Linked DNA regions of Homo sapiens. The protein of the gene in region 2 purifies or fractionates together with the protein of the main gene of each other region. This does not show direct contact. Each region holds a gene or a part of one and is shown on either strand. Other genes may lie near its edges.

Region 1 (6,668 bases), on a different chromosome or scaffold from region 2:
CACACAGTTTGGTCTGTTTCAGCAGGAAAAAAAAAAAGCCAGAGAACAAGCCTGACTCAGGCAGGGCCTGTGCCCCAGGGCGTTAACTTCACAACAGGGAGACAGGATGGCTTTCGGGGGGCTTTTTTTTTTTTTTTTTTGAGACGGAGTCTTGCTCTGTTGCCCAGGCTGGAGTGCAGTGGCGCGATCTCACTCACTGCAACCTCCGCCTCCTGGGTTCGAGTGATTCTCCTGCCTCAGCCTCCTGAGTAGCTGGGACTACAGCCATGAACCACCGCGCCTGGCCTCAGAAGGCTCTAAACAGCCAAACGCTCCATTGTAAGCCGGGGGATTACAGCCCACAGGAAGGCAGTTTCCAGGGAAGAGTCTCCCCCCATCTGTGGGCAGGCACCCACCCCTGGGGCCTCAGACAAGCAAGAGAGGGGATGAGATCCCTGCTGCTTGGACTGGAAGCTCGAGTGACCCCAGCTCCCCACACCTCGCGTGGTTGCCCACACAGCACACACAAGCAGGCCGTTTTCAGGAACCGGTATTTATTATCAAAGTCATATTCGATGTCAACAAGATGCCACAACTACAAAAAAAATTGCGCACATTGCAATCTCAATGCAAACAGTCAAATGGAACCCCAGTCATTAAAAAAGTAATTCAAATTACCCCAAAAAGCAACTGAATTTTTTAAACATCTTTATACATCCAGCCAACAAATTAAAATGGTTAACAAGAAAAAATACAAATTCAGAGGTCTCGTATCGATGTTTAAAAAAGGCAACTGCTTAAGCGTTTCTATCAATTCGAACGTCAATCTCTCGGCCACTCAGCTTCATGCCATTCATCATCCGGCAGGCTCTCTCGGCCACCTCTGGCGACTCGAACTTAACCACGCCACACCCCTTGGACTTCCCATTCTCCATCTTGATGTCGGCGTACAGCACGTGGCCTAGGACAGGGAGGGAAGAAGAGACGACACTCAGTCCCGATTTTGTTAGATTTTGGTGGACAGAGTCAAAAAGGAGAGGCCCTGAAGCCTAGAGCACAAAGGCTCAGAATACAATGGCGAGAACCAATGACTACGGCCCCCTCAGCCACACTGCCATTCTTCTGCTAACAGAGCCTGCCCCTGCCCCATGAAAAGCCTTCCTGGCGGATTCAATGCACGCCTTTACGCTTCAGGAAGTTCAAAAAAGAAGGCGCAGTGTAAAGCCAGCTTTATAGGCAGAAAGTTCCCATACATTTTACAAAGTCTTCATTTTTGATATGCCACCGCCCCTGGTTACAAAGCCATCCGCAATCCAATGGACACGTCTGTACTGTCCAAATGAAAGCCAGCAGGTTTCACTTATTCATTTGAGCACCCGTTAAGCATCCAGATATGTGTCAACGCCGTGGACAGAGCCCTAGAGGGCAAAGGCTCTACTCCAGGAGTACCAAAGGTGGTAGGGCCACAATGCCAGAGGTGGGAACTCAGTGCCTAAGAGAGGGCCCAGGGCAGGTAGGGTGGAGGGGTCCTCAGGGGCAAGTTCTGAGTGAGCTTACACAGAAATTCACCAGAAAGAAGACTTGCCAGTAATTGGCTCACACGAGAGCATTGCGGGACACGTGCAGCACTTGCCGCTCAGGTTCTGGGACAGGAGGGAGATGGAGGAGGATAGGACCAGGTCTTCAAGGGGCTTGTGAGTCTGGACTTCCTCTTGAAGGCACAGGGCCGCTCCAGGCATTGCAAAAGTGGGGGCTGGGGGCGCTGTGATCCCACTGGCCTTTTCAGAATATCTAGCTACAACATGGGAACTCAGGAGTGGGGAAAGAGGTGAAGAATGGAGCAAAGAGGCAGATCATGACTCAACGGCTTGCCCCAAGAACCATGGAGAAGCAGCAATGGTGGTGAAATCGGAGCCACTGCTGAAACAGGAAGCGGGAGGACAGTGCGGAAGCAGCTGCCCAGACCTCTAGCTCAGGCCCCTCTAGCTAAAAAGAACAGAGGTGGTGCATGCGGGGTGGGGGCTCACCCTGGAGGGCAGGGAAGGAAGACAACTTGCTTTCAGCCACAGACAGAGCCCTCCAGAAGAGTTGCCCGATGTGCCAGGAAACCACAAGACCTTAGCCTCACCCTCACAGGAGCTGCTGTGTGCCCAGAGCCTGCACCGCCTCCCCATGGCACCTGCTGGGCTGTGTTCTCTCCGAGGCCCCACACCAGCTGTGCTGAGGGGAAAGCGACCTCGTCTGGGATGTATTTATTTAGCCTTGCCACCTAGAAGCCAGGTAACCTCAGAAGGAAGACTCTGCCTGACTCATCTGTGAAATGGGGACACTACTACCTTGTTTCAAAGACTCAAAAAGAAAAAAGGAAGTAAGGATGAAATGAGAACACAGCTGAAAAACATGTGACACATCACAGGACACTCAACAACCTGCCTGAGCATTGGCGTGGGCAGAACATGGCAAGGCCATGGGTCCTGAGCCGACGGAGGGGGCTGGGAGGGAGGTTTTGCTGCTGACTCGGCTGCGTCACCAACAAGCACGAGGGAAGCACCTACAAAGCCGTTCCCAACACTTACCGCACTCGTTGAATTTGTCCTTTAGCATCTTCCATGTGAAATCGAATGGCAGCTGAAGGGGAGAAGAAAAGGGAGACTGATGCGTGATTAAACCAAATCCTAAGGCATGCCTTGCAGCTGGCTCTGAGGGCCATGCTAGATTTCTCACTATACCGAGAAGCTGGCTGCCCTTCAGACTGAGGCGATCAGCAGGAAACTAATAGATACATGTGGGACAAGGCTGTGAAGCGGCACAGCCAGCTCCCTCCCTGGGGCTCTGCCTGTGGGAGCACCGTGCAGGATGGGACACTCAGGCCTGCGGTGCGCAGCCCACAGTCACTAAATAGTGGCTAAGGGTGGCTGAGCTGGGGAAAATAATTCCGTTACAGCCACTTCTTTCCCTGGACCATCGTGCAACACATAGTGCCTCTTCAAGCCAACCAATCAGAAACTGGAGTCTCTGAGCTCAGCGTCTGCTCCATATTCTAGCACAGTGGAGAAGCCCAGGCTCTTCCAGAACCCACAGTTCTCACATTCCTTACTTGTCCCACTAGCATAAAACGTTTGGGACAGTGGCAAGGAGGTGTGGTCCCCTTTGAAGGGCGCCACCTCTGACTTCATCCTGCTGATCTTTGCCTCCCCTGTCCCCTCATGCTCACCACCACCAAGAAGTTCCCCAAGAGCCACTTACATTTCTCACAAATATCTGGCAGGCCTTCCTGGCCACCCCAGGAGCATGGCCTCCAGCTCCACCAAAGGAACCTGCGAAGCTTCCTCCGAAGTTGCCACGCTCCATCTCGATGGCACGGTCAAAGCTGGCACCGCCACCGCCACCCATGGCCAGGCCCATGCGCTCAATGCCAGCGCCCAGGGCCGGGCCCATGGCAGGGCCCATGCGCTCGAGGCTGTTGGCACCCATGCGCTCCAGGCCCATGCGCTCGAGGCTGTTGGCGCCCATGCGCTCCAGGCCCATCCGCTCCAGATTGTTGGCGCCCATGCGCTCCAGGCCGGTGGCCATGCGATCCATCACGGGGCCCATGCGCTCCAGGCCAGCTCCCATACCTGCGGGCACCATGCGCTCCATGCTCAGGCCCATGCGCTCGATGGCAGGGCCCATGCGCTCCACGCCAGAGCCCATGCGCTCAATGGTCTGGCCCACACGGTCGATGGGAGCGGCCATGCGCTCAAGGCCGAAGCCCATGCCGGCACCCATGCGCTCCACGCCAGAGCCAATGCGCTCCATGGTCTGGCCCATGCGCTCAATGCTGGAGGCCATGTGGTCGAGGCCCAGCGGGCCCATGCGCTCAATGCCGGAGCCCATGCGCTCCACGGAGCCCATGCGGTCCATGACCAGGCCCATGCGCTCGATCTCGGAGCCCACGCGATCCATGCCGTGGCCCAGGCCCGCGCCCATGCGCTCCATGCCGGCACCCCCGAGGCGGTCAATGCCAGGACCCATCCTCTCGATCCCAGGGACGCTTCCTCCACCTCCACCTGAAACAGGGACACAAAACACAGGTGGGTGTCAAGAACTTGAGTGTGCGTGTGCACAACACGCCAGACCACTTCAGCTCATGGGCATGGATCAGGGGTAAAGGCCCACCATAATTTACCATTAAGACACCCCTCAAATGTTGACAACAGCTACAGCTGTGTGGTGGGCACATGGGGGCCTCCCAGCATTCTCTCTGCTCTATGCCACAGCTGAGATTTCCATAACACAACTTCTAAAGAACACCCCTGTATGTGTGTCTGTGAGGTGCTAGTGTCTGTGACAAGCTTTGTGAACCATGGACGTCAATTCCTGAGACATCTGAGGTTTCTCCATCAGCAGACACTGAGAAATGCTCCAGGGGGAGGCATGGACACCCCCCACTCGGGGGGCCACCCAGGGTAATGAACAGGAGTTATGTGGAGACAAGTCGGAGTCACTCCCACCTTCCCCTCCCAGCCTGTCCCTCTAGGATGCTCTGCTGGGGGCCACTCTGGCTGCATTTCCTCAGCGCTCCCAGGGCACAGAGAAAGGATTTTCGGCCACACCATCAAGCAGAGGTCAAAAAAACACACACCGAGAGATCCTCTGTGTACAAATGCACACAGCTGGCCACTTTTGGGGACCCTATTGTCAGGGAAACCAAATGACTTGCTGGCTTTGGAAAGAAGATGTTGATGGCACTGCAGAGTGGGCTCTGGTAGCGGCTGGGGGTCAGTCAGCAGAACGAAGGGACGCCCCCACCCGTGGTGCTTGCAACTCTGGAAAGCAGGGTCTGGCTCCGTCAGCAAGGCCACCCCTTTCCACATGCCGAGTTTGGGGCTCCTCCCCGAAACCCTGTCGCTTGCCTCTGAGAGTGGCCATCAGCCCAGAGCCAGCCTGTGACCGACCCAAGCAGCCTAGTCAAAGATACCAATTCAAGAGGAAACTGGGCAGTTTCTCTAACTGGCTCTGTAACTGGCCACACCGCGCCTGCTTCTCTAGCTGCACAGCACACAGTGAGCGGCCAAAGCAGGCCCGACTCTAAGAATGTGTGACTTTCAGAGGGGAGACGTCTCAGAACTTCCCCACAGTATAAGGAACCTAGCGAGAATGGGCACTTTGCCCAAAGGCATCAGAAATGAGGTGGGGCAGCTGGGTGTGGTGGCTCATGCCTGTAATCCCAGTACTTTGGGAGGCCAAGGCGGGCGGAACAAGGTCAGGAGTTCGCGACCAGCCTGGCCAACATGGTGAAACCCCATCTCTACTAAAATTGCAAAAATTAGCTGGGTATGGTGGCGTGCGCCCGTAGTCCCAGCTACTTGGGAGGCTGAGGCAGGAGAATCGCTTGAACCCAGGAGACGGAGGTCACAGTGAGCCGAGATCGTGCCACTGCACTCTAGCCTGGGCGACAGAGTGAGACTCCGTCTCTCAAAAAAAAAAAAAAAAAAAGAAATGGGAGGAAATGGTACCAGCGTGGAGCTCCAGAGCCAGCCCAACACAGAAGTCAGGAGGTGAGATGCCAAGATACTCAGAGGGAAAATCAGGCTGAAAAAGTACATTTGGGCCAGGTGTGGTGGCTCACATCTGTCATCCCAGCACTCTGGAGGTATGCAGGTCACTTGAGGCCAGGAGTTTGAGATAAGCCTGGGTAACATGTCAAAATGCCATCTCTACAAAAAAAATCAAAAAATTAGCCAAACCAGGTGGCACACGCCTGTAGTCCCAGCTACTTGGGAGGCTAAAGTGGGAGAATCGCTTAGGCCTGGGAAGTTGAGGCCGCAGTGAGCAGAGACTGCACCACGGCACTCCAGCCTGGGAGACAGAGCGAGACTGTCTCCAAAAATGCTCAAAAAGTACATTTTGTTCTCAGTATCCATAAAGCTGTGTATGAATGAAAGATTCAGAACAAAATGTTTCCGGCAGTCATCACTGGGCGATGGGGTTTCAGACCATACTTTCTTCATATTTTCCTAATGAGTACATTTATCTATTTTACAAGCATTTATTACTTGTTGGGTGGTGTGCTTTCAGTCTTATCATCAAGTCTAAGGAAAATATATTTACTTTTAGGAATTTATAATGTGGAAAACAAAACCCCCAAAAGAGAGGTACTCTAACAATGAAGATGGTCGGCCTGTGCACAGCACGTGCGGAAGCACTCTTTCACATGCATTCACTCTCCACAGCATCCCTGAGGCAGGTACTATTACACCCCCATTTTACAAATGAGTGCTATGAGAAACAGAGAGGTTCAGTGACTTGCCAAACGTCACACAGCTAGAAAAAGGCAGAGCTGCTCCCACCCCGGGCAGTCTGTGTCAGAACCCGCACTTCTCACCACTAAGCTCTACAGTCCCCAGCGATAACAGCCTGTTCTAAAAAAACAAAACATCAAACTAAGCGGTTCCTACCTCCTCCCTGCTTTGCAATGATCTCTCCTCTCTTCAGTGCATTACTTAGGATTTCTAAGGAAATCAGGAAGAAAAAAAAATTAGCCAAATTCCTCTATGGCAATAGAAATGTGCTCATTACAGATTCCAGAGTAGAAATACTACTAATAAAAATGACAAGATAAAGGGAAAGGGGTTTGAGAAACACACGCACAGACAAGATCATTTTACAGAGAACTAGGAGAGTCCTTGATGCTGGGTCACGATGCC
Region 2 (7,028 bases):
ACAGATTATTTTAAGTGTACACAGTTGCTTTCTTTCCCTCCAACATAAGACTGACGCATTAAGGACACCATGGCCTTACCTTGTAGGTGCAGTGGCTGCTGGCTGCTGCCCATAGGCTGGATAAGCAGGCTGAGTGCCATATGCAGACTGAGCTGCATAGGAGGCCTGGGTGGTGGTGACTGTAGCAGTGGTGGTATCATAAGCACCAGTGCCATACCCCTGGACAGGCTGGCTGTATGCCTGGGGGGCAGTTGGAGTAGTATAACCTAGAACAAAGGAGAGCTGCATCAGATTTCAGGTCCCCTCAGAGATCTGCCTAGACACTCATTATCAGAACAATTTGTAAACCACTTACTTTAAACCATCAGGATATTGAATCCCTTTAAATATTCCCCCTTCCGCAAGAGTAGCAACAAACTGGTATTTAAAGCCTAAGTTCTCTGAATGTACCTAGTTTTTGGTAAAGTAACTGTCTCATTTGCTCTAAAACCACACCTAACAGAAATGGCATGTCATGCTACAGAAAACAGGGTTCCTTCTGCCCCCTCTTGAATGCTGTGAATAGGAGACAAGTCTGTTTTTGCCAAGTCTGTACTGATTTTGCTAGCAGGTCGTCTTAACAAGTTTGTAAACAAACTTACCCCAAAATACCCTCAAGCAGGAATAAAACATCCCAGAAGAAAAGGTAAAAGGCAAATGACATAGCATTTTAAAATAATTAGAAAATGATCCAGGTACTAGTTCTAGCACTAAAACCTGTAATTTGGGTAGTAATTAATTTAATCACTTTCTTTTGGTCCCAAGCACTAACATCATGTGAAGCACAAGCTTAATTACTTGAGCACATGATTAATAAAAATAAGCTATAAATTATAGTTGCTTAACACAGTTTATCCTTTTTTTGTAAATTATTTAAAATTAAACTTCGATATTGCTCCAAACAAACATTTAAAAGGTAATGTTTTCACATCATAAAGCAGATTCCTGCCTCGTTATCAAGTTACTCAGCTCCATTCCTCTTACTTACCTACCACAAGCAAAAGGCCTTTTTCCTGCTCAGCAATATTGGAGGTAAACCCTAGAGTCTCTCCTCCCCTTCAGTATTTCACTAACCAGGTGTCAGAAAAAACCTGGTTTCACAGGTATGCTGCAAAGCAAGATGCATTCTATCCCTAGCTCCTGCCTCTGCCAGACCAGGCAGGATCCATGCCTTTCCCTTCGGGACTTCGGCGTGGAGCATGACCAAAACCACGAAAGTCTGCAGCTCCTAACTAGAGTACCTTTCCTGTAGGAGGTGTTACAACCATTCCTGGTGCTGGACTCTTCTTCCTCATGGTCAATGGGTACAATTAAGCCATGCAATAAAAAGTTTGGTTTACACTTTGGGAGGCTGAGGTGGGAGGACTGCTTGAGTTTAGGAGTTAGAGACCACCCTGGGCAATATAGTGAGACCTCGCCTCTACAAAAAATAAACAAACTTAGCTGGGCATGGTGGCGTGAGCCTTCAGTCCCAGCTACTTGGGAGGCTGAGGTGGGTGGACTGCTTGAGGCTGGGAGGTCAAGGCTGCAGTAAGATCCAGCCTAGGCAACAGAGACCCTATCTTAAAAAAACAAAACAAAACAAAACTTTGGTCTAGGTGCTGGCATTTATATCCAAAAAAAAAGTCTACATCTCACTAAAGAAAAAGCTTCCATATTTAAAATAAATCCTGAATCAAGACTGCCCATTTTAGTTAAGATTTAGGGCCTTAAAGTGTCCTCATGTACTGGCCAGAAACAAGTATCAGCTTCCTTTTGTACAATCACCATTTGTAGCACAGAATATAATAATACTCTTTCTTCTCTACCTCAAATATTAAAAGGAAATTCTGAAATTATACACAGAGATAGTAATGTCCTTGTCAAAACTGCTGAGTTAAAATGTGTATGAAAGTATACATAGTTCCAGAAAACAGGAAGCCCCAAGCAATAAAAGTTTTTGAGTTGGCATGTTGTTCATCTGAACTGCTTAAGTTTTTGCAGAGTCCTAAGGTCAACCACATAAGGCATTCATTTATTTAAATTAGAATCTAATACCATCTACCCTACCGTTCATATACCGATTACACCCCACTACATGACACGTCTATAAGATTTACAAGGAGGGCAATTAAAAAAACAAAAAACTAAAAGTGATCAGGGCAATAACTCATGTCATAAAACTATGCAGCAACAGTTAGGGCCTTGTCATGCTAAAGATTACAGCAATAGACACTGGGTTAATAAATAACCTTTTAATTAATCTGTAGTACCCACAAAAGCAGCCAAGCAAAATGAACAAAAATCAACAGAGCAAAATGATTTAATGACCAAAAAAAAAACAAAAAAACAAAAAAACAAAAGACCAGTGGCAAAAAAAGAAAACACACCTACTATGTGCTGACAACTTGAAGGAAAAAGGTGGTAAGAAATATTACACAAACCAAAACTTTTGTTCAACGTAAAAATTAAGAAGTTTTTAAGAATTCCATTGAATTGAGGTTTATATAACCCCTTTCTTCTGAAGTTTAATTTTTAAAAATCCTAGAAGAGAACAGTGTATTTCTATGTATTCCCTCCAATGACTATCCGATAACTTTCATGTGTAAAGGCAGTATGAGGTAAGGAAAAATGCAGCATGTGTGCTTGAACCCACGCACTACCAATTAGGCTCCTGCTAAGTTTTGTTCACACAGTTTGCTCATCAGGCTTAATTTTGGTGTTTTTATACCCCAAAAGTTCTTGGGAGGATTAAGGGAGACAAGAAGGCCACTCTATAAACTGTGAATTTTATACAAACATTATTATTACTAAGTGCAATCTCCAGCTCATCAAAGCTACTAGTCTCTAAACTAGAATGACCTGTACTTTTTAGGCCCACAGTCATGATGGGGATTTCTCAACCAACGACAATGTGATACATGGCTCTAGAGAACCATTAATTTGCCTATAAATCACTCCGTCTCATTCCTGTAAAATGATCTAAGGATTCGGAAGGCTAGATCTAGGCCACATTAACTTTCACATCATGCTTGTTTTAAAAAATGTAATGGCTTTAATACATGAAGTTTATCTCACAATTTCAAAATTCTATGCTAAAAAATCCAAACTGCATAACCTTAGTTCCAGCTCTTCCCACAGCTGCAATTAACACCACTAGAAAGTTTAGATAAACATTTCCCATCCTATTTGAGAAACACCCTAGAAGAGGTTAGGAATTACTTCCCATCAAAATCAGGACACTGGTACTCAATGAGATAAATTACAGACAGGTTTTTCCCCTTAACTGGACTATATATAATTTGGAGAACTAAAGACAGTTTGAAAATAAGAGCTCTGATATCTTTAAGACTTTATTAGAGTCTTTTATAACAGCAATAATAAAAGGGCAGGGGGAGACAGCCTGAAACATTACACAGCACTGAACACAAAAAAATTATCATAGGTTTTTCATGTATCCCACCCAACCTCAGTATCGGAATACAATTTCTTCTAATTCTTAGAATAGTTTATTTTTTAGTATCTTGGAATAATGTTATATATATTCAAGACATACCATGGATTAAAATAATTCATAACACTTAAAACAGAAAATAAAATGTGTCTGGACTAGAAACCAACCAATAGACAAACATGATACATGCAGGGTGGCAGTCTGCTCCTCTAAATAAATCTCATCATGCAATCTATCCTTCAGGGAACAGGGGAAAATCAGCTGGGGAGAAATCACCTGAAATACCTTTGGGAAGGTAAATAACTATTATTAAGGCTTGAAACAAAGTAATATTAAATAAAAAAACCTTTCCCAAAATCATATAAAGAATAGGACATGGATCTGCAAATGGCACCTGAAGCAGTTTTTCATTAGCACCTTGCTGTGTGTGATGTTAGAAAGTTTGGGGGTTCAACAAATGAAAACACCTAAAGGATTAACATTACAGGGTTAGACAAGATGGAAAGCATTTCCCATGCAAGAATGAGCAGGATAGTCAAACCTGTACTGGTCCCTTCTACTGTGGAAAGCACAAAACAAAAAGTAGAGGGTACACTATCAGATGAAGCAAACATGTGAAAACCAGTTTGATTTTTAAGCAGCTCAATTTAAGAAGACTCATTCTTACTCAGTATTAGCATTAGCAAAATCTTTTACATAGTCTCCATTTCATCGTGAGATTATTCAAACAGTTAAAAGTTCTTTTCTCTCTTGGAATTTATCCCACCCACATTCTATTGGAGATCTCTCAAGACTATAAGAGTAGGGAAGAAAGAGAAAAAATACCTCTTCCTAAGAATAAAGGATTCCCCAGATGCCAAGGTATGGACCAGAATATACATCCGAAAGCATGACTAATAAGCTTCTTAGCCAATGCCCTAGCCAGAACGACCCAAAAATCTCTCCAAGGCAGGCCTTACCAGTGGGAGGCTGTCCATAAGAAGTTGCATAGGCGGTCTGCCCATAGGTTGCAGTGGTCTGAGCCTGGGTATAGCTGACATCAGTGGGCTGTCCATAGGTTCCATAGCTTTGTTGCCCATATGCCTGCTCCAAAAAAAAACGAATGCAAGAACTTCATACATGAACTTTTGTATTTTAGCAATAAAATGGACTAAATTGGAGAACCAAAATCAAAAACATTCCTTTCTAGAAGATTAAAAAAACAAAACAAAAACAACAAAACAAGACAAATAATCACAGTATCATGAATGTTATCCCTTATCTGGTTCACTCATATTATGGTAAAGTTAGCTACGGAAAAAGCTCATTAGGTAAGTAGGCAATGTCATTCACAGCTTCTCAAAAGGGGGAAAAAAAAGATAATCAGGCAAAACCTCAGTTAACTATACATGAGATTAACAAGACACTCTCAAGGGAAGAGCAATAAGGGCACAGGTGTATTAACTGCTAGCACTTAGCGTAGCACAGTTTTAGTGATTGGAAACAAAAGGTACGAAGACAAATGAACAGAGAAAGCAATGAAGAGGGCTAAAATCTGTCAGAAAAAATTGAAAACCAGATTTTCAGCCTGACAAAAAGACTTTAAAACTACTATACCACTTCAAAGAAAATGAACCAGAACGCTGTATGTCCTCTTATGGTGGGCACATCAAGAGTACTGTCTTTTGAACTTAGACATCCATAATACTTAAAATCAGGCAAGGAAGAGTTGTTCTTTCAGATATTAGCATGATTATTCTCTAGGTTTGTTTAAATGACCAGTTATGTAAGATCTGCCAGAGACATCACATTCTGCTTGTCCTAGAACATGTTTCCATGGCAGTTATTAGTATCCATTTTATGGCATGGATCATTTCAGAATTCAACATTATCTTGAAAACACTAGAAGGCTAATTTCTAGAATCTGTTGGCCTAGGCTTTTCAACAGACTCTTCACTGGAAAGAGCTCAGCAGCTCCTTGGCTAGGTCGCCAGTTTTTAGAGCTAACCCCGCCACTTACTGTGCAACCACTGGCAAGTTACTTAATATCTATGCACTGCAATGTTCTCCTCTGCAGAATGGTCATATCATCCTCTTCCTTTGCAGAATTGCTATGATGAATAAATTCACTAAATTTAAACATAATGAAGAAGGACCAAGCATGGAACAGGGCACCTAACTTGAGAAATCATATTAAAAAGTTATAAAGAGTCAATTATCAGCTTCTGAATGGTTTCATTTATGATGGCACAATGGAGTCCTTCGCACTCCCACTGTGAAAGTTTAAAATGCCTGGGTATTTTACTATTCCAAACACATTACTCATTTGTTTTACTGGATAACTGAAAGATAACTGGATAATATACTGATTTTACTTGGAGGTGCAGCTACATGTAATTATTTTAAAGATTACCTGGGTGGTCTGTGCATATCCTTGAGTGGGCTGGGCGGTGTAAGCACTGTAGCTGCAAAAGAATTAAATGCAATAACTTGAATAGAGAACATTCAAATACCACCTCTACAATTATAGAAGGCTCCATATTCAAAAAATATTAATCACACACAAAATACGGTTATAAAAGACTGACTTACCCCTGCTGCGCTGCAGCTTGGCTATAGGTACTGTAATCTAGAGGAAAACAAGGAGGAAAAATAGTGTAAAGTTAGCAGAAACAAGGAGAAGAGAAAAAAGGGGGAAAGAATTCACGTGGCAGGAAGAATTCTTTAAACTGTAGGGAGACCTGCCAACACAGGTCCAAATGAGTCCCCCTTACCTCTCAACATCTAACAGAAAAAAAAGTCTAAACCAGTTAAACTCAACATTTGACTGTGGGACTAGCTAATGAGGTCAAGATCAGCTGATTTGGCAGGTATACTTTTTATGTTCCCATGACCACAAAACCCATCCCAATCCCAACTGTCATTTAAAATACAGGATGATCATCAATATCACAGACTGACAACAAGATCTACTAACAGGATCAGAAGTTTCTACCCTCATATAAAACGGAGGCATGCAACAATAATACAAAGTTTAACACTAGATTGGTTACGTTAGAACCTACCTCTCCTCAAAAATTAGTTTTCACTCCCCTCACTTTAGCAAGTTAGACAAACCATCATTCCCTAGCTCAACGACAGTGAAACGGAATGGCAGACAAGAAGGCAGTCACCACACTCCAGTGTTTTAAAGGGTTTGCTGTGTCAGAACTATATTTGTGCAGCAACTTAAAAGCTAGATATATTATAAACCCTGGTGAAGCAGAGCTAAGGCAGAACCCTGAAGACTGGCAAAGAAGAAAAAGCATTTAGTCTTTCTGGGAAAAATTTGGTAACACCATTGTCTTTCATACAACTCAAAATGATTTCAACTTAAAAAAAAGACATGAATTTTCATCCCTTATCTAAGTAAACCTCCCTATAATTTTCCTTTTCCTATGAAATTTATAACATGCATCCAAAGGGACCAAAAACTGGTCCACTGAGGTGTCTACAAGTAGTAAAAACAAACGGAAAATAGTTTTCAGAGCGCTACTGCATTAAAGTTAGATAAATTTAGTTTTTTTTTAAAGGCAGT
Region 3 (7,028 bases), on a different chromosome or scaffold from region 2:
GAGTGGCTGGATATGGGGCAGACAATGGATAGAGGTATCCTGAAAAAGAAGTCTGTAGCCCAACATCTGGTTCTGCCAACTCCCACAGGCTGCTAGCACTCACCGCAAAGCAGCCAATCACATCGTTCTCTGCAAACTTGTCTCCGTAGTTTTCAAACCGGCTATTGGTGGACTTCTTCCCAGTGCCTCCATAGCCATAGGAGAAAGGCTCTTCGCCTGACGGAAGAAATAGGCAAAGGCAGGTTAAACCTGCGATGGTCATAACAGCCTCAATGGCTGCCACATACTTTTATTTTTGAAGAAAAAAATCATTTTCTTTACTAGTTTTATTAATCAGATGCCTTTTTAAAATAGGGGTGGGGAAGGGTGAAAGGAAGCCCTTAATGATGTAGAACTTGGAGGGCTTGATGGGTTTCATTGTCCAGTCTGGGAGTAGGAGCTCAACTGAATAACTCTGCACAGAGGGGAGAATTTGAAAAGAAAGGGAGGAAGGAAGACAGGAGTTGGGATGGAGGAGAATGGCTGTATGCTGAGATGCAACCCTTCCTTGTGACACCCAATATTCAGTCCAGTCTACTTGTGGTAGAAATCAGTGAAGGGGCTGGATTTTGCTCCTGGAGACCATGAGGACTGACCCCTGGGAAAGGTACTAGATTTCCTCAGGCTACAGAACTGGGTGCTGAAGTGATATGACTGAGAGATCCCAAGGGCTCTGGCTGACACCTGAGTTAGAGATTCCGGGCAGAACCCAAAGAGTATGCTGTTAGAAAAGCAGGGGCCGACAAGCATGAATGCCAGGGCTCGTTCTGCTACAAACCAGCTATGTGACCCTGGATATGGTGCTTGACCTCCTGGGCTGTTTCCCCATCCCTATCAACTGCCACCACCTACATCTCAAAACGGAGACAGAGATAAGATGAGATGACTTATGAGTCTTAAATAAAAAGTGCTAACACATATGGAAATGAAAACTGTATACTTTTTTTTTTTGGTGCTAACATATCTACCTTTTTGAGGAGGTACCAATTTATGGGGTACATGTGCAATTCTGTTACATGCACAGATTGCATAGTGGTCAAGCTTTTAGGGTGTTCATCACCTAAAAAATGTACATCGTACCCATTAACCAATTTCTCATCCTCCTCCACCTTGTTACCCCCTAACACTTCTGAGTCTCCATTATCTATTATTCCACTCTCTAAGTCCATGTGAACATATTTTTTAAACAAACACTTGTGAGTGAGAATATCATCTATTTTTAAAGATTAGTCTTAAGTGGTCAGGCAATTATGGACCAGGATAATGGCTCAAGTGTTAAAACAGCAAAAATTTGCAATAAGTTTAAATGAGCTACAGAAGGGGACTTGTTAAATAATGCAACTATAAAATGGAAAATTATGCAGTAGTCAAAAAGCTGCAGTTATTTACAAAAATATGCCCATCATACATTAAAACAAGGCTATACAAAGTAGTCCTAGTGTGATCCAGTTTAAAGATGTACAAAAAAATAAATGTCCAGAAGACTACAAATGGAATGTTAACATTGGTTAGTTTCTCTCACAGGTTTAGGAAGGATTTTCATTTTTCCCTTTCTGTATGGCCTGAATTCTTATACGCAACACATATTATTTTCATAATTGGAACGTTTGTATGATCATAAACGGAAGGCAGGAGGTGTCAGCATTGGTCAGAATAATCAGTCACTTGGGACCAGAAGGTCATTGAAGCCTGGGGACCCGCAAAATTCAAAACCTTTCAATAGGCAGCCCCTGCCCCTCTCCCAACTAGCCCTGGCCTCACTGGTCTCTGCTCCCCTTTTTCCTCTAGGTTAGGCTCCGGACAGAAAATACAGACAGAACTTAATGGAGCTTGGGAACTTATCAGCAGCTTGGTTTAAGGGCAGGAGACACTGATCCTTTTTACAGAAAGGGAATAGATTCCTAAAGAGAATTTTGGACCCTCTCCTAAAAGATGAAGGATAAGAATTGATTCTTCACAGAAAAGTTGTTTCATGACCATAGTCCTCTCAGTTGAATACAGCATGACAGAGACAGTGGCATATACCTAATCCTTGTACCTGTTCCACTTCAGCCTAGTTCTATTCTAAGTCTGACGCTGGAAAAGGAAGCTTAGGAGCCTTGAAAATCCAAGGGTAGGGACAGTCACTCTATTCTCTGGACTGCATAGCTGACCCCTCCTTACCTAGCTGGGTGCTGCAGGAGTCCAGGGACCAGCCGATACGGACCACGTGGGGGTCAGGCTCTGTAGACGGAAGGTGCTTCACGGAGATTTCCTCATTGATCTGAGGAAAGAGGACAAAAGGGCTCAGGGTTGCTTCTCTGGAGGCCGTAGGTTATGAGCCAATATAGGAGGGAAGCATATCAGGCATTAAAAAATAGCAATGGCTTTTCTTGCTGGAGAAGAAGCGTTTAAGCAGCTCTGAAAAGCCTGTTGAACCGAATCGAAGCCAGGGCCTCCAAAGGGATCAGTAGAGTACAGGGCCACAGAGACAGGCATTTCAAAATACGGTTATGTTTTAGTTTAAGAGACTCTTGTAACATCTAGTAGAAAGATAAACTGTTACAGTGTCTTTAGAGGGCAATCTAGAAGTCTCTATCAAAACTGTAAATGGCTGGGGATGGTGACTCACACCTGTAATCCCAACACTTTGGGAGGCCAAGGCAGGAGGATGGCTTGAGGCCAGGAGTTAGGAACCAGCCTGGCCAACATAGCAAGACCCCATCTTTACAAAAACATTAAAAGAAAAAAACAACAAAACCCCATAAATGCACATGCTCTATAACTCAGCATCCTATAGATACACTAATATGTGGACAAGTATGTCTACGTATGTGTGACTGTATTTGTATATGCAACATTCTGTGCAGCATTGGATGTATATATGTGCACATATATATATATATATATATTTTAACATCAGAAAAAATATCAATAAAGCACTGATTATGGTATATCCATGCCACAAAATATGATGCAACAGTTAAAAAGAGCAAAGTAGGCCGGGCACGGTGGCTCAAGCCTGTAATCCCAGCACTTTGGGAGGCCAAGGTGGGTGGATCACCTGAGGTCAGGAGTTCGAGACCAGCCTGGCCAACATCATGAAACCCCGTCTCTACTAAAAATACAAAAAATTAGGCATGCGTGGCGTCATGCACCTGTAATCCCAGCTACTTGGGAGGCTGAGGCAGGAGAATCGCTTGAACCCAGGAGGGAGACGTTGCAGTAAGCAGAGATTGCGCCACTGTATTCTAGCTTGGGTAACAAGTGAAACTCCGTCAACAAAACAAAACAAACAAAACAAACAATCAAACAAACAAAAAACAAGGAGCAAAGCAGTACATTGGGCTAATGTACTGCTATGGAAAAATGTCCAAGATACAGTATTAAGTTAAAAAAAAAAAAAAAGCCTTCTGACTTAATTTCGTATTAAAAGACTAGACTGCCGAATATCCGTATCTACCTGTGGCCTCACTGGCTTTTCAGACACACATTTTAAAATCTCTGAAATCAGGATCCATTTTACAATAAATGTGATGAGAAAGCACTGCGTATGCTGGGTGCGGCAGCTCACGCCTGTAATCCCAGCACTTTGGGAGGCCAAGGCAGGCAGATCACCTGAGCTCAGGAGTTCAAGCCCAGCCTGATCAACATGGAGAAACCCCATCTCTACTAAAAATACAAAAATTAGCCGGGCAGGGTGGCACATGCCTGTAATCCCAGCTACTGGGGAGGCTGAGGCAGGATAATTGCTTGAACCCGGGAGGCAGAGGTTGCAGTGAGCCGAGATCGCGCCACTGCACTCCAGCCTGGACAACAAGAGTGAAACTCCATCTCAAAAACAAAAAAACAAACAAACAAAAAAAGAAAACACTGCGTAGTTTATTTTGTTGCAGTGTTTCTCTATGAGAGGTACATAAAATAATGCACAACTTACATCAATGGTGTCGTGGTCAATAAAATATAACCCTCTGTGTTTCAGCTTCTACCTCTAAAAACTGGGGCTAACAGTACCTGTTTCCAGATGGTACTGTGAGGATTAATGGAGATAATCCATGTAAAGAGCTTGGTGCTGTATCTTGTGCATGCAAAGAGCTCTATACTTATTAGCTATCATCAGTAAGTTTGGATACACAAACCACAGGTAAGAAATTGTTAACACAGAAGTTCCCTCCAGGGAGTAGGATGGTAGGATGGGAACTGAGAGGACATGAGAATAACCTGTTTTGTTTTTTTTGTTTTTGTTTTTTTGTTTTTTTTTTTTGAGACAGAGTCTCACTCTGTCACCCAGGCTGGAGTGCAGTGGCGTGATCTCGGCTCACTGCAACCTCTGCCTCTTGGGTTCAAGCAATTCTCTGCCTCAGCCTCCTGAATAGCTAGGATTGCAGGCACCCGCCACCATGCCCGGCTAATTTTTTTGTATTTTTAGTAGACAGGGTTTCACCATCTTGGCCAGTTTGGTATTGAACTCCTGACCTTGTGATCCACCTGCCTTGGCCTCCCAAAAGTGCTGGGATTACAGGCAAAAGCCACCACACCTGGCGAGAATAACCTGTTTTATCCTGTACTTTTCTGTGCTGTCTGAACTTTTGTTAAACATGAGCATCTATTATTTTCATAAACATAACTTGACATGGAACTGTGGAGAGATGACAGCAGAGGCTGGCCTAAGCTGGCAGTTCTTTGCCCTGTTCTCCCTCTGGCCTCCCTTTAATAAGTGACATCTGAGTCTATTCTTTCTAGATCACTTTTCTTCCAAACAACTTCTTTTCTCAGTTCTACAAACATGTCATCACTACACTGGTTGACTACATAATACCTGGGTCAAATCTCACCAAGGAAATATCTGCTTGATGAAGCAATGCATGGTTGGCCTGCTTTTCTGATATGATATTTAGCAATGATGTAGTTGTCTTGAGTTCATCACAGTTTTGTCTGCTTGGACATGGTATTGCACAATCCAATCTCTTTTGCAGTTGCAGCTCTGACCAAGGTGGCTGGTATCAGGATATTACAATGGATGGACTTCTCTGTCCCTTCCCCTTCTCTTGCTCCTACTCACCTTCATCTCGAAGCATACACGGCCCCTTCTGACCCCATAGCTGGCACGGGCTCCTGACCACAGGTATGCAAAGCCCTCAATTGTGAGCGGATAGCCACTACTCCGATCTCGGGCCACCTTGAAGTGGAGGTCGCAGTTATCTGTGAAGGAAAATGCCCACAGTTGGCTGATGTTTTTATTTTGTTTTGTTTTCTTGAGACGGAGTTTCACTCTTTTTGCCCAGGCTGGAGTGCAATGGTGCGATCTTGGCTCACCGCAACCTCCGCCTCCCGGGTTCAAGTGATTCTCTTGCCTCAGCTTCCTGAGTAGCTGGGATTACAGGCATGCACCACCACACCTGACTAATTTTGTATTTTTTAGTAGAGATAGGGTTTCTCCATGTTGGCCAGGCTGGTCTCGAACTCCCGACCTCAGGTGATCCACCTGCCTCGGCCTCCCAAACTGCTGGGATTACAGGCGTGAGCCACCACGCCCGGCCTGGCTGATGTTTTAGAAGTCCTAAGAAAGAAGCAGGCAGAGGGAACTTCCCCAAGTGCTGACCAGGAGTACACAGTGAACACATCATGGGGGCAGTTTCAAAAGGAACCAGCACACCCCTCAACCTCTCTCCCTTTGAGTAGGGAGGATGTGCAGTATTGCAAATTGGCCTGTATGACCTCAGAGAGGAACTGGGGTTCTTTATCTGGTGGGATCCAAGGATGGGGCTTCAGGGGTATCCTCAGAAATTGTCAACACATGTCTTTGGTGGGGATGTGTATTTGCTAGGGATAGGGTCCATATCCTCAGCAGTTTCAAATTAATTTTTTTTTTTGAGACAAGGTCTCGCTTTGTCACCCAGGCTGGAGTACGGAGGCATGATCTCGGCTCACTGCAACTTCTGTTCTCCTGCGCTTAAGCCATCCTCCCACCGCAGCCTCCTGAACAGCTGGGACTACAGGGATATGCCACCATGCCAGGGTGATTTTTATATTTTTCGTAGACAGGGTTTCGCCATGTTACCCAGGCTCAAACTAGTTTTTAGAATACAAAAAGGTTAATCACCACCACCATATATTCCTACCGCCCTCTGTGGTAATTCTATCAATTTGGGAACCGGACTTCTGTTTCCAATAGCTATACAGGGATCTGACCCTGATCCACACCTGCCACCCAGGAACCAATGCCCAGGTGCCCCATAGGCTCCTAATTCCTTTCATGGGCCTAGGACTCTCCTACTGTTGCTCTTACCCTTCTCAATATTCTCAATATTCAAGGAGCCAGTCACGCCTCCAAGAAAGCCTTTCCTGACCATCCCTCCCATGAGGCGCTCTCCTTTCTCTAAAGGCTGACCGTCATGATCTGTACATTTGCATTTCATCTAGACGCTGCCTCATGAACCACTGCCACCCAACACTTTTTAAACAATGTTTACCTCTACTCTGGGTAGATGTTGTTTTCGAGAGCTTGTGATATTAGAGATTGTGTATATTTTTATCTCTTACTAAAGCATGTAGCCAGTGCTTTATAAACAGAAGCTTCTGTAGAAATAGATGAATAAATTGCTGCTTATCTTCTGCTCTGTTGAGAAGTGCAGTGTTCTCAGACCTGATTGGGCTTCTGGGTGCATGTAAAAATTTAGATTCATAGGCTCGACCACTTAGACTCTTGACTAGGAGGTCTGAGCGAAAGGACCTTTATAATAATTCCTCCAAATGCTCAGATGCACAGTGAAGGTGAAAGCCACTTATCCAGTGGAAAGAAAACTGAACTGGAGGACAGACAGCAGGGCGGGCCAGGTTAGTGCCTCACAGGACACAGTGGCATTGGTTTCACCAGGAACTTGAGCAGCTGATGGAAACGGGAACTGGTTGTCAAAGAGTTAAGTTTCCCCAGCTGCACTCAGATTCCCTTCCTGATTAGATGACAACCCCTGTGTGTACAGGGCGGTTCAGGGTTTTCCAGATTGCTC
Region 4 (6,402 bases), 9.2 Mb from region 2:
TAGGGTACGTTCTTGTGAATTTCCACTTTCCAGGTAGATGACCAAATTTAGGTGGTCAAGATATAAAGGTGTCAGCTAGTTTTAAGTGTGAAACTTATTTCACTTTCACACTGCCTTCAGGCCAGAAGCAAACCAAATTTACCAGGTTTGGCTGGAGGAGTTTTGTGACTCATCTTTTACTGGTTTGAATTTTTTCAAACCAGTGGCTGATACCTGCCTTGTACTTAGTACCTTAATACCAATAACCTAATGGTACTTAGGCGAGTACCATTTGCACAATCACTGTTTTACTTATGAGCAGATACAGATATATCCAAACCCTTACCTACTAGGTATCCTGCTAGGGTTTTCAATTCCAATTCTTGTATTAAGTTTTTTCCTTTCAGTTTTAGGTGCGAAAGTAATCAGTCAATCCAATATCCCCCATCTTTGTCTTGAAACAAAAACTGTTTTAAGACGTCTACGTTGAATTATTCAGAGAATTAAGCAATAAAAGCTCACACCTTATTGTCAACAGTGTTTTTATTTATACCTACAAAAAGAAAACAAGATGATGGTATCAAAAGGACAATTTACAAACTAAGAATAGTAACATAGCTTTCAGCATCCTGTGCCTGAACATCACACATCTACAAGTCTTTCAAGTCTTAATGCAACAGGAATGTGTCTGGAGACCAGCAAGAACATCAATAGAGAGCACTGATCCCAAGCAAAAGCCACTAACCTTTTAGATGAGAAGTCCACACAACGAATTGTTAGGGAGGATTGGGGAGAAGCAGCCCATTGCTTAATACATTGGAACCCTTTCCCTAAGTTGAGTTTCAACCATGAATGCAATAACTAGCATAAAACGATTCTTCTGCTCATGTTCTGAAGCCAACAGCAGAACCTGAATTATAAGTGACAGACATGGAGGCAGAAGAGTTAAACTCTGCTAGATTTCAGCTGTGCTCAGGCCATAATAGTTTTTGAGGTTTGGAATTTACTGTTATTTTATGATTACAATGTCCCAGGTGGAAAAAGGGAAGCAAGCAATCCAAATAACCACTTGCTTGCCCAGAGACCTTTCCCTCAAACAGATGCTTTCAAGAGCTGCGAGAGAGTAGGGCATCCCTTGTGGTGGTACCTCTATGTTTAAAGAAAGAAGAAAAAAACCCAGAATTTGGTTGTAGAAAACAATGCCCACAACAGACTGGCCAGTGCTTAGACAAATTTGGGGTTGGGGGGAACACTTTGGTTTGAAAGCACAGAGCAGTTTGCCATGTTTCTTCTGTGCCTACCATTCTCCCTTGGCCTCAACTTCTGTAAGATGGGGGGGGGACAAAAAGAGAAGTAAAGTTAAGAAGAAAGTGGAAAATTAAAAAAAAAGATGTCAAAGTTTTTACATGCATATATTTCAGCTTATGCTGAAGACCTACCTGTATGTTGCACATTGAATCATACTTTCAGAACCCCTCAGAAACCATCCCTCTCTCCCTAAAGAATTTTAAAAGGAAAACAAAACCTCGAGTATAGATCTTACAGATGAGCAAGCATTCAGGCCTTAGCCAAAGAATGCAGTGGAGCCTTCCCCCTTCAACTGCATTGTGAATGAATACCAATTAACAGCATAAAAATTAATAGTCCCATATCAGATCTGGAAGGGGTTTCTGGGGCTGTCTGATGTCCCTATCCTGTTGTAGTGAACACAATAGCAGAAAATTCTTTCTGGGTCCATCTGCTATAAAGTCTTGGTAAAACAGCATTACCATGAAGAGGATGAACTCACCTACCTTCAGATGGAGGAAAAGTGAAAAGGACTTAGGCTTTAGTCCTCCATGACTTTTCTTAAGCACTACCTACCTGTAATAAGCTGAGTGCAAAAGGATGCCGAAGAAAATCTGCACCCAGAAGCTGTTAGAAAGCACTGCAGAGAACAGGGTATGAAGAAAATAAAGAGTTCTTAATAAACCCTTAAGATTCTTTGTTCAAGGTAACTTTGCCAAAAGGGCAGAGTAGGTGGCAAAGAGTTGCTTTTAATCTAGCTCTACACTGCATTTGAAAATAAAATTTGCCCATTTTGAATATATTGTTTATAATTAAATGTGCTTTTTACACTGCAGGTCAATATAAAAACTGGTTAGTAAATTTCCAGCGAGCATTTATGTTCATTTGCTCACAGCAGCTGTCTGGATGGAAAATTAATTTCACAGATGGTCCCCAGTTAAACTGGGAAGAAATATAGGCAGCTTCCACCCAGATGCTGAGATGCTACAGTTTAACCACTACAATAAACACTTGTGGTTTTTAATTTAAAGGATACACAAAACTCAGCAATTCAATTTCTAGCCTGACACTAAAATGGTTATTTTTCAGTAACGGGGGGAGAAGTGGGGAGGCAGAGTGTGAAGGGAAATAAAACCAATTAGTAATTTTTAACTATCAAATGCACTCCAGCAATCAGTCAAAACAGGCCCGAGGAAACCTGTTCCAACTTAAGAAACATTTAAAAGCACAAAAGAAAATGTGCAGGGCAATCCCTCTTTGTTTTCTAACCCAGTAATGAGAAATTTAAAGCACAGATGCCATCTTCCTCTGCAAAACAATTCAGCCCTCCCCCTCCCTCCCTCCCCACCAACTCAGAAAAACAAAACATGGGGCTCCCACAAAAGGGCCTAATACCTTACTCTTTTAGATGAAAAATAGCTCAAATATCTTCAACATGCAAGAAGTTGGGGGAAGAAATTAATCTCTTCCAGTCAGCTATATATATATATATATATTTTTTTTTTTTTTACAAAATGTTATTCCAGACTGGATCATTTTGGTGGGCAGAAGAAACCTGGCAGTGAATTCTAACTAATCTGCATGAAAAGACAAATCACGATGGTTGGGGGGAAAAATTAAAAAAAAAAAAAGAAAAAAGGAAAAAAAAAGAAAAGGCGAAGAGGAAAAAAAAAGGAAAGACAGTGTTCCTTAAAATGTAATTAAGTCTGCTGGAGTCACTACCACTTGAGTGGTTTCATTTACGTGAAGGAGGAGGAGGGGGAGGAGGAGGAGGGTATTGGTAGGCAGTCTGCCCCATGTAACCTATCATATTGGTAGCTCCCGGAGGCTGTGCAAACTGTTGTGACATCAGTGGCTGTGGCTGCTGCCCAGACCGGCCTATCCCACTAAACTGCTGGCTAGAGCTCTGTGAACTTCTCCCAGTTGAGGTGGTGCTACTAGCTCCATAAGTGCCAGCACCATATTCTTGAGCTGTATAGCTACTGGTGCCATAAGCAGCTGCCCCATAGGTGCCTTGACCATAGGTGTATTGGCCTGCTTGTGCTCCAAAGGCAGAATTTGGACTTCCATAGCCACTGCCATTAGCATAACCAGCTCTATCGGTTTCACTACGATCCCGATAGCTTGCAGAGTCTCTCCGGCCACCATCCTTGACTCCTCGAAGCCTTCGGTCACACTCATCCTGATACATCAGATTGGGATTGTTGGCTGAAGAAGTGGTCCGGTAACGAGAACGACCACCTAATGGGAAGATACAAGAAGATTTTTAATGGCAGATATAGGACCTAAACATAACAATGTAAAAATTCTACTGGGTACAAAAGTATTAAACATGTCTCCTTGATATTTAGTTATGCTGGCCAGCCTCCCAATTAGTACTGTAAAAATATACTCATAATTTGATTCTTTAATGGGGCACATTCAAAAGCACAGTAAAAATTAAAGGACACTAGACCTTTTCACCCTTTTAGGCCCCTTACTTGAGGATGATCAAGAAACACGGTATTACAATATGAAACCTTGAGTCAGGAAGCCCAGATCCTAGGATATTCTGCAACTGTAGATGCAACTGCTATGTCTCAGTTTCTACCCACCACTAAACAGTGTAAAATGACTGACCTCTCCGTATGGAAAACTGGAAACCTAATATACTACTAAGCATTTTTGAAAGTATTAAAAAAGCAACCATGACCGGGGGCACACTGGCTCACTCTCGTAATCCCAGCACTTTGGGAGATCAAGGCAGGAGGGTCACTTGAGGTCAGCAGTTCAAGACCAGCCAACATGGTGAAACCCTGTCTCTACAAAAAATACAAAAATTAGCTGGACATGGTGGCACATACCTGTAGTACCAGCTACTTGGGAGGCTGAAGCAGGAGAATCACTTGAACCCAGGAGGCAGAGGTTGAAGTGAGCCGAGATCGTGCCACTGCACTCCAGTCTGGGCAACAGAGTGAGACTGTCTCTGCCCCCGCCCCGCCAAAGCAACCACATTAAAACTCAGACCAGCCTCAGCTAGGTTTGGTGGCTCACTCCTGTAATCTCAGCACTTTGGGAGGCCAAGACAGGTGGATCACCAGAGGTCAGGAGTTCGAGACCAGCCAGGCCAACATGGTGAAACTCCACAGACCAGCCTCAGCTAGGTTTGGTGGCTCACTCCTGTAATCTCAGCACTTTGGGAGGCCAAGACAGGTGGATCACCAGAGGTCAGGAGTTCGAGACCAGCCAGGCCAACATGGTGAAACTCCACCTCTACTAAAAATACAAAAATTAGCAGGGTGTGCTGGCGGGTGCCTGTAATCCCAGCTACTTGGGAGGCTGAGGCAGGAGAATCACTTGAACCTGGGAGGCAGAGGTTGCAATGAGCTGAGATCGCGCCATTGCACTTCAGCCTGGGCGACAGAGCAAGACTCCGTCTCAAAACAAACAAACAAACAAAACCAAACCTCAGACCAGTCTCTAAGAAAAAAAAATTCACAATTTAGCTTAACTAATAGGACTATCACAACAAACTTCACGTTTTCTTAGTTGAAAAAGGTTATAAAAAGCATTAGGCAGTGTCCTTTGCTATTAAGCAACATACTTACAGCCTTCTTAAAAACAGCAACTAAAAGCAAGTCACAGAAGGCGTAAAGAGATACCTTGGCAGTACCTGGAAAACTCCAGGACTTACCCTTACCCCCGCCTCCGCCGCCTCCTCTGTGGTCCACAAGCTGCATCAGTTTTGGATTGATAGCCTGATTGGCCTCTTCCAGCACTTTGATAAGCTCTCTGGCCTGTTTTAGGTTCCCTGGGGTGAAGAAGGTATAGGCGGTACCCTTGTTGGTGCTACGGGCTGTTCGGCCAATACGGTGCACATAATCCTCTGAGCTGTTTGGATAGTCATAGTTGATCACAAACTTGACATCTTCCACATCTTCCACGTCAATGATGAGTCAGTGTGTAGGTTGATGTGGCAGGGAAAGAGAAGGTAAAGGACATGCCAACAACAGGTGGGAAGCACGAATGCAGATGACAGCAAGAGGAAAGAAGGTGAAGTTAGTAACCACTCTGAACAGAAACAAAAAAAGACTCATCCCAACAGAGTAAAAGAGGATTACTGATTCCTGGGACATGCATAGGAAATAGGATCTTTATTGGCTGTAGAATCCTAAGGGAATCCCATCCAAACATCCAAACTCCTGCCTCTGCTACATTTTACCAATATACTGACAGGAGTTACACCAATATTGGTCTTCAGACGCAAATTCCAGTACTATCCTTTACAAAACCAGAACATAGAACAAAGTGGTAAACCACTGTGAAGTTATGAGGCCAAATCACTTCTACTCTGTTGGGAGAAGCCTGGCAAAATCTACCAACAACATAACAAACTTACCTTTAAACCAGTCACAGAGCAAAGTAAAAAAAGGAGCTTCATATATTTTATTACTACAATTTAAAGGAAACTTAAATGTTTTGATTAACATTTAACTTTTTTTGCTCTTATCTTTTTAAGAAACTGAGTAGAGCCAAAGCTGTTAAGTACACACCTATTTTCCTTTGCAGAAACATCCAGATTATCTATCCCCTTTCAATTACAAGAGCACATTACACTAAAATTTTACTGTACTACCAAGCCCAGCTTCTGCCAAAATGAGGATATTTTTGCTCAACTCAAGGTTATTTCAACTCAGGACTTGTTTCAATTATCAATGATTGTCTACGTGACCTGGGAAATTAAATTAATAGCCAAAGAACGTGGGAAAACCATGAAACCTTGAGACACAAGTTTAGTATTCTCTCTACTGCTGGGAATTGGGCTGAATAACCTCCTAAGGCTTAAAATGTAAATGTTAGTGTAATGCTTTCAGCTGAATGTATATTTTTACCTACTTAAACAAACAATTTTAAGAATATAACAAAGAATCCTACTGTTTTGTGGAAAAAAATCTGCATTTTACAAAGAATATTCAGAAAATATCCTAGATAAAACACAGATTTTTGTGATATAAATAATTAAAAAACATTCTCTGTTTGTTACCAGACCGATGCACACTCCCTCCTCCTTTGGGAAACCGCTGCAGCCGATCCCGTCTCTTTGCCTTTTATTTTTGGCGGCCTCCTTTCGAAAACTCCGCCTTCTGACACGGGACC

Evidence for each region.
Region 1: the proteins of EWSR1 (region 2) and HNRNPM purify together in Homo sapiens (affinity purification with mass spectrometry; 2 studies listed by BioGRID, with this or other methods). This does not show direct contact.
Region 3: the proteins of EWSR1 (region 2) and HNRNPUL1 purify together in Homo sapiens (affinity purification with mass spectrometry; 2 studies listed by BioGRID, with this or other methods). This does not show direct contact.
Region 4: the proteins of EWSR1 (region 2) and DDX17 purify together in Homo sapiens (affinity purification with mass spectrometry; 3 studies listed by BioGRID, with this or other methods). This does not show direct contact.

The regions. Positions count from the first base shown.
Region 1 is NC_000019.10:8,482,963-8,489,630, reverse strand, and holds the end of HNRNPM (heterogeneous nuclear ribonucleoprotein M), read right to left. Parts: intron 6,474-6,668; coding exon 6,420-6,473; intron 4,029-6,419; coding exon 3,226-4,028; intron 2,608-3,225; coding exon 2,556-2,607; intron 941-2,555; coding exon 777-940; 3' UTR 517-776; downstream 1-516. UniProt on the Homo sapiens protein: Pre-mRNA binding protein in vivo, binds avidly to poly(G) and poly(U) RNA homopolymers in vitro. Involved in splicing.
Region 2 is NC_000022.11:29,271,268-29,278,295, reverse strand, and holds part of EWSR1 (RNA-binding protein EWS), read right to left. Parts: intron 6,081-7,028; coding exon 6,044-6,080; intron 5,917-6,043; coding exon 5,865-5,916; intron 4,559-5,864; coding exon of another isoform or gene 4,556-4,558; coding exon 4,432-4,555; intron 4,032-4,431; coding exon of another isoform or gene 4,014-4,031; intron 267-4,013; coding exon 80-266; intron 1-79. UniProt on the Homo sapiens protein: Binds to ssRNA containing the consensus sequence 5'-AGGUAA-3'. Might normally function as a transcriptional repressor. EWS-fusion-proteins (EFPS) may play a role in the tumorigenic process.
Region 3 is NC_000019.10:41,274,351-41,281,378, reverse strand, and holds part of HNRNPUL1 (heterogeneous nuclear ribonucleoprotein U-like protein 1), read right to left. Parts: intron 5,221-7,028; coding exon 5,081-5,220; intron 2,303-5,080; coding exon 2,203-2,302; intron 217-2,202; coding exon 104-216; intron 1-103.
Region 4 is NC_000022.11:38,482,934-38,489,335, forward strand, and holds the end of DDX17 (probable ATP-dependent RNA helicase DDX17 isoform 1 precursor), read right to left. Parts: intron 5,183-6,402; coding exon 4,946-5,182; coding exon of another isoform or gene 4,940-4,945; intron 3,508-4,939; coding exon 3,002-3,507; 3' UTR 505-3,001; downstream 1-504. UniProt on the Homo sapiens protein: As an RNA helicase, unwinds RNA and alters RNA structures through ATP binding and hydrolysis.